Regions from separate parts of the Homo sapiens genome. Here region 1 is linked to region 2. Evidence: fine-mapped expression QTL. A gene starts in region 2. The other region holds a variant in brackets. All regions are shown on one strand. Distances are between the middles of the regions.

Region 1 (4,383 bases), 45 kb after region 2:
CTTTTGTTTCTTCCTCATTTTTCTCTTGCTGCTGCCATGTAAGAAGTGCCTTTGGCCTCCTACCATGATTCTGAGGCCTCCCCAGCCATGTGGAACTGTAAGTCCAATTAAACCTCTTTTTCTTCCCAGTCTTGGGTATGTCTTTGTCAGCAGCATGAAAACGGACTAATACACCATGTCAGGTAGGTATGCTGGAATTTCAATAAGACAAAGTTGAGAACGTGAGGGGAAACTTGGGGGCCTGTTCAGCAAACAGCCCCCAGGCTGACATCCTCTGGAATGTTCTGAGGAAATGGCATTCTCTGGGTCTTTTGCAACAAGTACCAACTTTACACAAATGACCCATCAGAGGGCTCTTTTTTCCAAGCCTCAAATCTAGCTCTTGTGATGATGTCACTCTGGCCACAATGATTATTGAAGAGGTGGGCACTACACTAAATTGGGCCAATCATGGCCTCTTCCTGGGGGAAGGATGTGAGGGAAAGAATGTCCTCTCTCCTTTGGATTGCTACCAGTGAATGACCAAAGTTGTGTCTCACACAGAAGCCCTCCTAGCATGCAAGAGAGTGCAAGATCTCCCAAGAAAGAGAGATGGAGCATCAATGGCATCTAGAAGCCAGGGGACATTATATGAGTTTTGGCATTTACCCCTGTATGATCCAGTGCTGTGAACTCTTTTCTCTTATTTTATTTTTCTTTTTTAGGGACAGGGTCTTGCTGTATTGCCTAGGCTGAAGTACAGTGCCTAGCCATAGGTGAGATCATAGCACAATACAGTCTTGAACTCTTGTGCTCAGGTGATCCTCCCAGCTCAGCCTCCTGAGAAGCTGGGACTATAGATGTGCATCATTGCACCCAGCTTCTCTCTCTTTCTCTTTCCTTCTTTCTTTTCTTTCTTTCTTTCTTTCTTTCTTTCTTTCTTTCTTTTCTTTCTTTCTTTCTTTCTTTCTTTCTTTCTTTCTTTCTTTCTTTCTTTCTTCTTTCTTTCTCTCTCTCTTTCTCTTTCTTTCTTTCTCTCTCTTTCTTTTCTTCCTTTCTTTCTTTTTCTTTCTTCCTTTCTTTCCTTTTTTCTCCTTCCTTCCTTCCCTCTCTCTCTCCCTCTCTGTCTCTTCCCTCTCTCTCTCTCTCTTTCTTTTTTTTTTTTGGATGGAGTCTCACTCTGTCGTCCAGGCTGGAGTGTAGTGGTGTAATCTTGGCTCACTGCAACCTCTGCCTCCCGGGTTCAAATGATTCTCCTGTCTCAGCCTCCTGAATAGCTGGGATTACAGGCTCACACCACCATGCCTGGCTAATTTTTGTATTTTTAGTAGAGATGGGGTTTCACCATATTGGCCAGGCTGGTCTTGAAGTCCTGACCTCAGGTGATGTCCACAAACCTCGGCCTCCCAAAGTGCTGGGATTACAGGTGTGAGCCACCACACCTGGTCAGCTTCTCTTTTTCTCTGAAGTGAGTCTTAGTAGAGGAGTTTTTCCCCTCAAAATATCTAAAACACTAAGACATCCCTTCAGAAGCCCCCACGTTGACACTATGTCATAGCAACATGTACCCTTGGTGACTCTCCTCTGCCTCACTATTCGAGTCACTGTCCTCTGCCCACACTTGTACCACTGCTTTCCACCAACACACACACACCTGGGGAAATGGAAAGATTAATACTGTATTAAGATCATTTTTCCCACTTGGCCCTGCAAATGACTCTGGGAGGTAGGTGGGTTGGGCAGGTTGGGTTTACCCCTATTTTGCAGGTAAGGAAACAGAGGCTCAGGGAAGTGAAAAGCTGTGGCCATGCCTCAGGGCTGGTGCCAGGGCTGAGTTGCAAACCCAGGTGATCTGGTGCCAGGCTGAGATGGCAGTGCCACTGTGAGGCAGTATGGCATTGCAGAAGGCAGCAGGGAGTTAGACTTTGACTTAGAAAGAGCAGCTAACTTCTGTGAGACTTAGTTTCATCAGCTGAAAAACTAGTGTTTTAGTCTGTTTTTTGGTGCTTCAGAATACCTGAAACTGGGTAATTTATAAAGAAAAGGAATTTATTTCTTACAGTTTTGGAGACTGAGAAGTCCAGGGTCAAGGGGCTGCATCTGGTGAGGGTCTTCTTGCTGGTGGGGACTCCCTGCAGAGTTCTGAGGCAGCACAGAGCATCAAGTGGTGCTGGGGCTGAGTGCGCTGGCTCAGGTCTCTCTTCCTCCTCTTATAAAGCCACCAATCCCACTCCCATGATCACCCATTAATCCGTTAATCCATTTATCCATGAATGAATGGATTAGTGGATTCGTGGGGCTAGGGACCTCATGACCCAATCACCTTTTGCAGGCCTCATCTCCCAGTACTGCCACACTGAAGATTAAATTTCAACATGAGTTTTAGGGAGGCCAAATATTCAAGCCATAGCAATGGGATACAATTATCTATCCTATAAAGCTGCCTTGAGTCTTAAAAGAGAGCTTCCAATTTAAAAGGCACCTGGCCCACAGACCGTGACACCATCATATTCTTGTGAAATGGCTCCTGAAGGTAGGGAGTAAGGCAAAATGTCTACACTACCCAGCCCAACAAACAGCAAGCACAAGGAAATATGAAGACCCTGGGTCAGTGCTCTGCGCTCCGTTCTCTCTTAGACTAGTTTCTACAGCCCGTGAAAGTGTGGGAGGACACCTGGTAACTGCGCAGTAATTTGCACACTTGAGTGGGCA[C/T]TGGGATCACCGGAGGGCTTGTTAGAACACAGATCTCTGGGCCCCTATCCCAGAGGTCCTAACACAAGCAGGTCTGTGGTGGCCTGAGACTCTGTATTTCTAGTAAGATCCCAGGTGCCGTTGTTGCTGCCGTTCTGGGGACCACATTTTGAGAACTGCTGTCCTACAGGGTCTGCTCCTGGGAGGGCCCAGAGACAGGGTGTGGGGATCCCTTTGTGTTTTCTCTCCCAACCAGGCTTCACTGAATGGTTTCTGGAGCCCGTCCTGCATCCAGGCAGCTGGACCAGCGTCACTGGCAGCTTTAGTGAATGCGGTTAGTGAAGAACCAGAAAAAACAGGTGTCACACTTTTGGTGCTTGAATTTTTTTTTTTTTTAAATTTTTGAGACGGAGCTGACTCACTCTGTCATCCAGGCTGGTGTTCAGTGGCATGATCTCGGCTCACTGCAACCTCTGCCTCCCAGGTTCAAGCGATTCTTCTGCCTCAACCTCCCGAGTAGCTGGGATTGCAGGTGCGCACCACCACACCCAGCTAATTTTTGTATTTTTAGTAGAGACGGGGTTTCACCATGTTGGCCAGGCTGGTCTCGAACTCCTGACCTCATGATCCACCTGCCTCGGCCTCCCAAAGTGCTGAGATTACAGATGTGAGCCACTGTGCCCGTCCTGGTGCTTGCATTTTAAAAAGCCAGGGTAGAGGTGCAAGATAATAAAGATTTGGAAGCATATGTAAGCGTTCCCTAAGCTTCCTACCATGACCCCAGCCAATCCATATGGGACGACTGGTGGGGGCAGGAGCTGAGAGCACTGAGCTCACAGAACAGTTCTAGCCCTGAGATGGCCCTCCCAGCACTGATCAGTGCCAGCAGGAGGAACATAGGGCCTGGACACTTCACTGAGCCTCCCATCCCACCCACCAAAGGCCCACATGGGTGGTGGGGCCTGGAAACCGAGGGAGGTGGTGGTGCATGGAAGGGGTAGTCTTCCATCCCCTGCCCCAACTTGGGCAAGATGGAGCTTCCTGGCTACATAGGGTTACTACCAAACAGACAACTCCTTGTAGGGCTTATTTTATTTTATATTTTAATTTAATTTAATTTAATTTAATTTAATTTAATTTAATTTAATTTAATTTAATGTTAGTGTTTGCCTTCCTATCTGCCTATCACTATAAGGCAGCCAGAGCCCTGAGCTCTTCCTTGGTCTTCCCAATATTTCTGTATCTAACAAGAGAATAAAGGATCATTGGGCAGAAAGTAGACGTAAGAGAGAAGAAAGAGAATACTGGGAGTGGTGCATGGCACCCTCATTGTTACAATAAGAGTAGCTCCTAACAGTGTCCATCAACATTGCTGGATGTCAGTCACAACAGGCATGGACAGCAGGTAAATAGCCACAACAAATGCCAACTTTCTCTAGAGCTGTAGCATCTACCACATAGATTTTGTGTAGACCAAAAGGGCTCTCTGCAACCCAGGCAAAATGTATAAAAACACAGATATGCCTAGACACTCTCAGGCAAAAGTATTGCTCAAAGGAAAATAAAAAGATTGCCTATAAAAGAGCAATTCAAGTGAATCTCATATTTCTTAGAAGTTACAAATAAGCAAAATCTTCAGTTTTTGAGGAAAGAAAAGGTTGTGCCTCAGAATTGCATAAACATAATTAAGCAGCTAGCCATCTGTGAGGACAC
Region 2 (4,383 bases):
GCTCCTCTTTTCCTTCCCTCCTCTATTGCTCACTCCCCTCCTCAACAGGGCTGAGTCTCCAAGGAGAGGACGGCACAGGCAAGGCTTGGGTGCTGGGGGCCGAGGGCGAGGTCGAAGGTGTCACTGGCGCTCTGGCTGCCTGCACGGGCAGGAAGGCTTCTTTGCCGGCCTGGGAGTCAATCTCCTTCCTCTTTTCCCTCTCACGCTCTTCTAGGTTTTGGGTTCTCTTCCTATAAAACAGGGAGGAGTTTCTCAGGCTCTGGTGTGAGGGAGAGAATAGAGAAGTTACATGAAAGTATGTCTGTTTCTGGTAATATGGTGGTCTGTGCCCACTTCAGCTTAAAAACAACAACAAATGCTGCATAGAATTAAATCTTTTCAAAGCATTGAAGAGACCACAAGGCAGTAAGAAATGAGTAGGCCAAAATCTAAGTCAAAGCAGAATCTGTACTGGGGCCCCCCGTGCCCTGAGGTCATTGGCCAAGCCAAGCCGAACCTGAGCTTTGATCCTGATGGTTTGGGGAGTGAGGAAGACAGAAGTGGAAGCCCAGTTCTCACCCCAAGAGGGGACACAAATGGATGACCCTCCCATGATGCTGAGACCCCAAAAGGCTACACACTCAAGCTAAAAGCCAGAGGAAATCCCATCCTGCCACCCACAAGACTTCAAGGAAAGTTGTTTTGGTGCTGAGCAGAGCAGGGGAAGAAGGAAAACAGCCCTTAAGGAGCTCCAGCCACTGGCCAGCCTTCATGTGACTCTAGCCCAAATTCATTCCCATCACCTGGGGTGGAAGGGCCAGAAATCTCAAGCTTAGACTCTGGAAGTGCCCCTGGGAGGAACACACCTCCTTCCTGTGCCTCAAAGACATCCCACCTGATGATTTCCCCCCTGGGAAGCAAGCAGTTCACAGCCAAAAGCTGGGATCTGGTCAGGCAAGTTCAGACTTCTCGTCTGTAAAGGGGAGGCTTAGCCACGTGCTCTCCAAGTTCTACCCGGAATAGAGATTTGTAGGGGTGCAACCTGAGCGAGGCAGAAGTGTGTCCCCACTTGGTATTCTGGGGGCCTCTGCAGAGTGAAGAGATGGGGCTGTGATGTGATGGATAAGCCAGACTGTCTCCTCCAACTGAGCTGGAAGGACTTGGCAGGAGACTGTCCCCTGTTCCCAACTCTGGGGGAGGGCAGATGGGGAATGAAAGGGGAGTGGTGTCTGAGCCCAGACTGGCCTTTGATGTGTGCGTGGATAGGTGGGCAGGTGGGGCCTGTAATGGGTCTGCTGAGGGATCCCTGAGGGCATCCTCAGTGTTGACCTACTTGTGTCCCCCATAATTGCTTCCTTCCTTTCTTGGGAGGCTACAAATAGTGACGCCCTGTCTCTAAGCTCCTACAGCTGAAACGCCAGCACCAGTGGTGAGTGCCAGCTGCTTGGGTCCTGCCCTGGGTTGAGTGTCAGGGCAGTTTGGGGACCCCCAGTAGCCAGCCTGACTCCTGACCCAGGGTCTGGCATTGGAAGCAGAGAGATGACCACAGGCGGGCCTGACACGGGGAGGGAAGTCAGATATAGTGGACGCAGAGGTTTCCTTACACAGTGAGGGGCTGTTGGGGAAGTTTGGGCAGGGAGGTGTGTAGAGCTAAGGTCTGCCTTGGGGTGGGAGCACTGGGCTCAAGGCTCTGGTCTTCCCCTTGATCAGGCCCCTCACCTGCTCCTTGCCTCCTTGCTTCACCTCTGAGTCTCCTCATTTCTGAGGATCATGGCCCTTTCCTCTCCTGGGAACCTGGACACCTTGCTCTAATCCTGGGGTGTTTACAATGAATTAAATCCTGGCAGTGCTTGGCACTCCCCACTCCCCTTCCCCTACTTTCCTGCCAGCCACAACCATGCCAGCCATTTGCTCCCAGCAGGGGGCCCAGCAGTGGGCAAATCTTCAGGGAGAGTCTTGGCCCTGGCCGCCCTGTGCTGCAGGACTCTTGTCCCGTGGGGGAATCAGGAGTGAGTCACTGGGCTAGCATGGAAAAAACTCTTGCCTTCCTGGCTGCCTTCGGGTTTTCCCAGGCTGGAGGCATCATCCCAGAAGGGCGGTGGAAGGGGACAGTGGAAGTGGGGGGAGGTGAGCAATTCCAGGAAGGGCTTCCCCTCCAATAGAACAGAGTATCCCTATACAGAACCTCCCTGCTCAAAACCCCCAGGGGTCGGGAGGGTAACCTCAGGGGAGGCCAGTCTCAGATTGGTAAACACCCGAACTGGTCAACTCTCAAGAGACCATCTGGTTCAGGTTCCTGACTGGGCCAGCGAGGTGAGATGAACCCCAACTTACAGATCAGGCCCCGCCCCTGAGACCCAGAGAGACAAATGGCTCACCAAGGTTGCACAGCTGGCGACAGGCAGAGAGGATCCCACAAGTTTTTCTTCTGGGTGCAGCTTCCTCGAGTTCAGGGCAGGAGGCAGGGTGAGGGCAGTGGTGGTGAGGCTGTGGGGGCGCCTCTCAGACCTGCCCCTCCCTGCTAAGGCCTAGCTTCTCCAAGGGCTGAGGGCAGAGAAGCACAGGGCCAGGCTCTCCTTGTGCAAGTTCCTGCAGGGAGGGAGGCTTCTAGGGCATCTCATGGGCTGGGGCAGACTGGGACCGAGCCATCCCTGGGTGTTGGGGATAAGAAGAGGTGGCAGATAATCTGAGAGTGCTTAAGGAGCCCCACGGTGGGGTGTGTGGGTGGTGGGGTAGGATGCTGTCTCTCTGAGGAGTTTACAGCGATGTTGGGGCAATGAGACCTCTACATGGGGAAATAACAACAGGACAGCAGGGGGATAAATTAGGAGGGGCTGGTGTGGTCTGGGAGGGCTACTCAGAGGAGGGGGAGACTGCGGGGCCTGAAGCCTGATGGAGGTTAAGATGGGTCTGGGAACAGTCTCTGAGAAACACAGAGGGCAGAGGTGAGCTGGGGGGCTGGCCTGGAACTCTGCTGTGAGCCACACCCTTGTTCTGTGACAGTGAGGATGGCCAGGCCTCTGGAGCAGGCGGTAGCTGCCATCGTGTGCACCTTCCAGGAATACGCAGGGCGCTGTGGGGACAAATACAAGCTCTGCCAGGCGGAGCTCAAGGAGCTGCTGCAGAAGGAGCTGGCCACCTGGACCCCGGTGAGCAGTCAGAGTGTCCGTCCCCTCCTCCTCCGGGGGGAGGCACTGCCTAGACTCTGCAAAGAGAGACCTGGGGACAACAAGCATGAGCACAGGACAGCAAGGGAGGGGGCTGGATTGTGAGGAGGGAGTGGGAGGGGGAGAACTGACACAGCAGAAACCTCAGCTTCCTCATCTGTAAAATGGGATGACAATCATCCCTGCTGCCTTGCAGAGCTGTTGAGAGGACTGAGTGAGAGCACCATGAAGAATGCCTAACACTTGGTAGGCACTCAGTAGCAAATAGTAGGTGCTCGATTAATAATCTGAGAGGACAGATTTGGGAGGGGATTGCAACGAGTGCATTATCAGAGCAGGGAGGTTGAAGTCGGCCCTCAGAAGGGTGTAGTTTGGGGTGGGGTGGGTCCACTTGGGAGAGGAAGGAGGGAGGTGGCGTGTGAGGCTGTTCTGCCCTCCTCATCCTACTCCCTTACCTCTCCCAACCCTTCCCTTGCACAGACTGAGTTTCGGGAATGTGACTACAACAAATTCATGAGTGTTCTGGACACCAACAAGGACTGCGAGGTGGACTTTGTGGAGTATGTGCGCTCACTTGCCTGCCTCTGTCTCTACTGCCACGAGTACTTCAAGGACTGCCCCTCAGAGCCCCCCTGCTCCCAGTAGCCTCTGCTCCAGGGGGTGCGCTGGCTGTCGGGGGCTGGGCATGTCTCCCACACCCCCTCCTACCCTCTCTCCTGTACCCCTTTCAATCTGGACTTGCCCAGGTCTTCTGCGATCAGTTAACCCATTTTACCTAGGAGGCCCAGAGATGTGAGGGCTCCTTCCTCAGGATGCCCAGCGAATGAGGGGTAGAGCCACTCTGGGGCCCAGCCTGCCTGCCGCACCCCTGTGGCCTCCCTTGTGGATGGGAGGAGGCGGGATCTGCTCTGAGGCCCTCGAGGCTCAGCAGAGCGTGCACCAATGAGACCACGATGGGAAAGGGCCTATTTAACTCCTAATAAAAAACTGGCATCAGCTTGGTTTTGTTTGGTTCTTCTCTGAGGACGCGTCTCCTGAGCTCTTTGCTCCTCTCTGGCCTTTTCCACTGCGGGAAGGCAGCTGAGGGCAGGGGCAGGGTGCTCCCTGAGGGAAGTTGCAGACCCTGCAGAAATGCAGTGGCCTCCAGGGTCCAGCAGGAGGGCGTGGGGACAAAACAAGGACCCCTGTCCTCCCTTCCTCTCTCTCTTTCTTTGGGATCTTTGAGAGAGGACTGCCT

The links. PIP is the estimated chance that this variant, and not a neighbour inherited with it, causes the effect. A credible set is the group of variants that fine-mapping cannot tell apart.
Region 1: its variant is the best candidate, but not a certain one, in a credible set for the expression of S100A3 in esophagus mucosa (GTEx, PIP 0.78).

What each region holds. Positions count from the first base shown.
Region 1 is chr1:153,501,805-153,506,187 of GRCh38, reverse strand. No RefSeq gene overlaps it. Among named protein-coding and RNA genes, the nearest start is that of S100A6, 32 kb to the left of the region's middle. The variant C/T (reference allele first, on the strand shown) is at 2,692.
Region 2 is chr1:153,547,090-153,551,472 of GRCh38, reverse strand. It overlaps S100A3 (S100 calcium binding protein A3), which reads left to right and starts at 2,215. Exons shown (of 3, transcript NM_002960.2): 1 at 2,215-2,292; 2 at 2,983-3,128; 3 at 3,627-4,144. The coding sequence starts at 2,988. The coding sequence ends at 3,791. LOC101928034 (a long non-coding RNA gene) reads right to left here. Exons shown (of 3, transcript NR_125947.1): 2 at 2,358-3,052; 3 at 1-230. RefSeq lists enhancers at 1,002-1,563, 2,127-2,688 and a silencer at 1,866-2,160.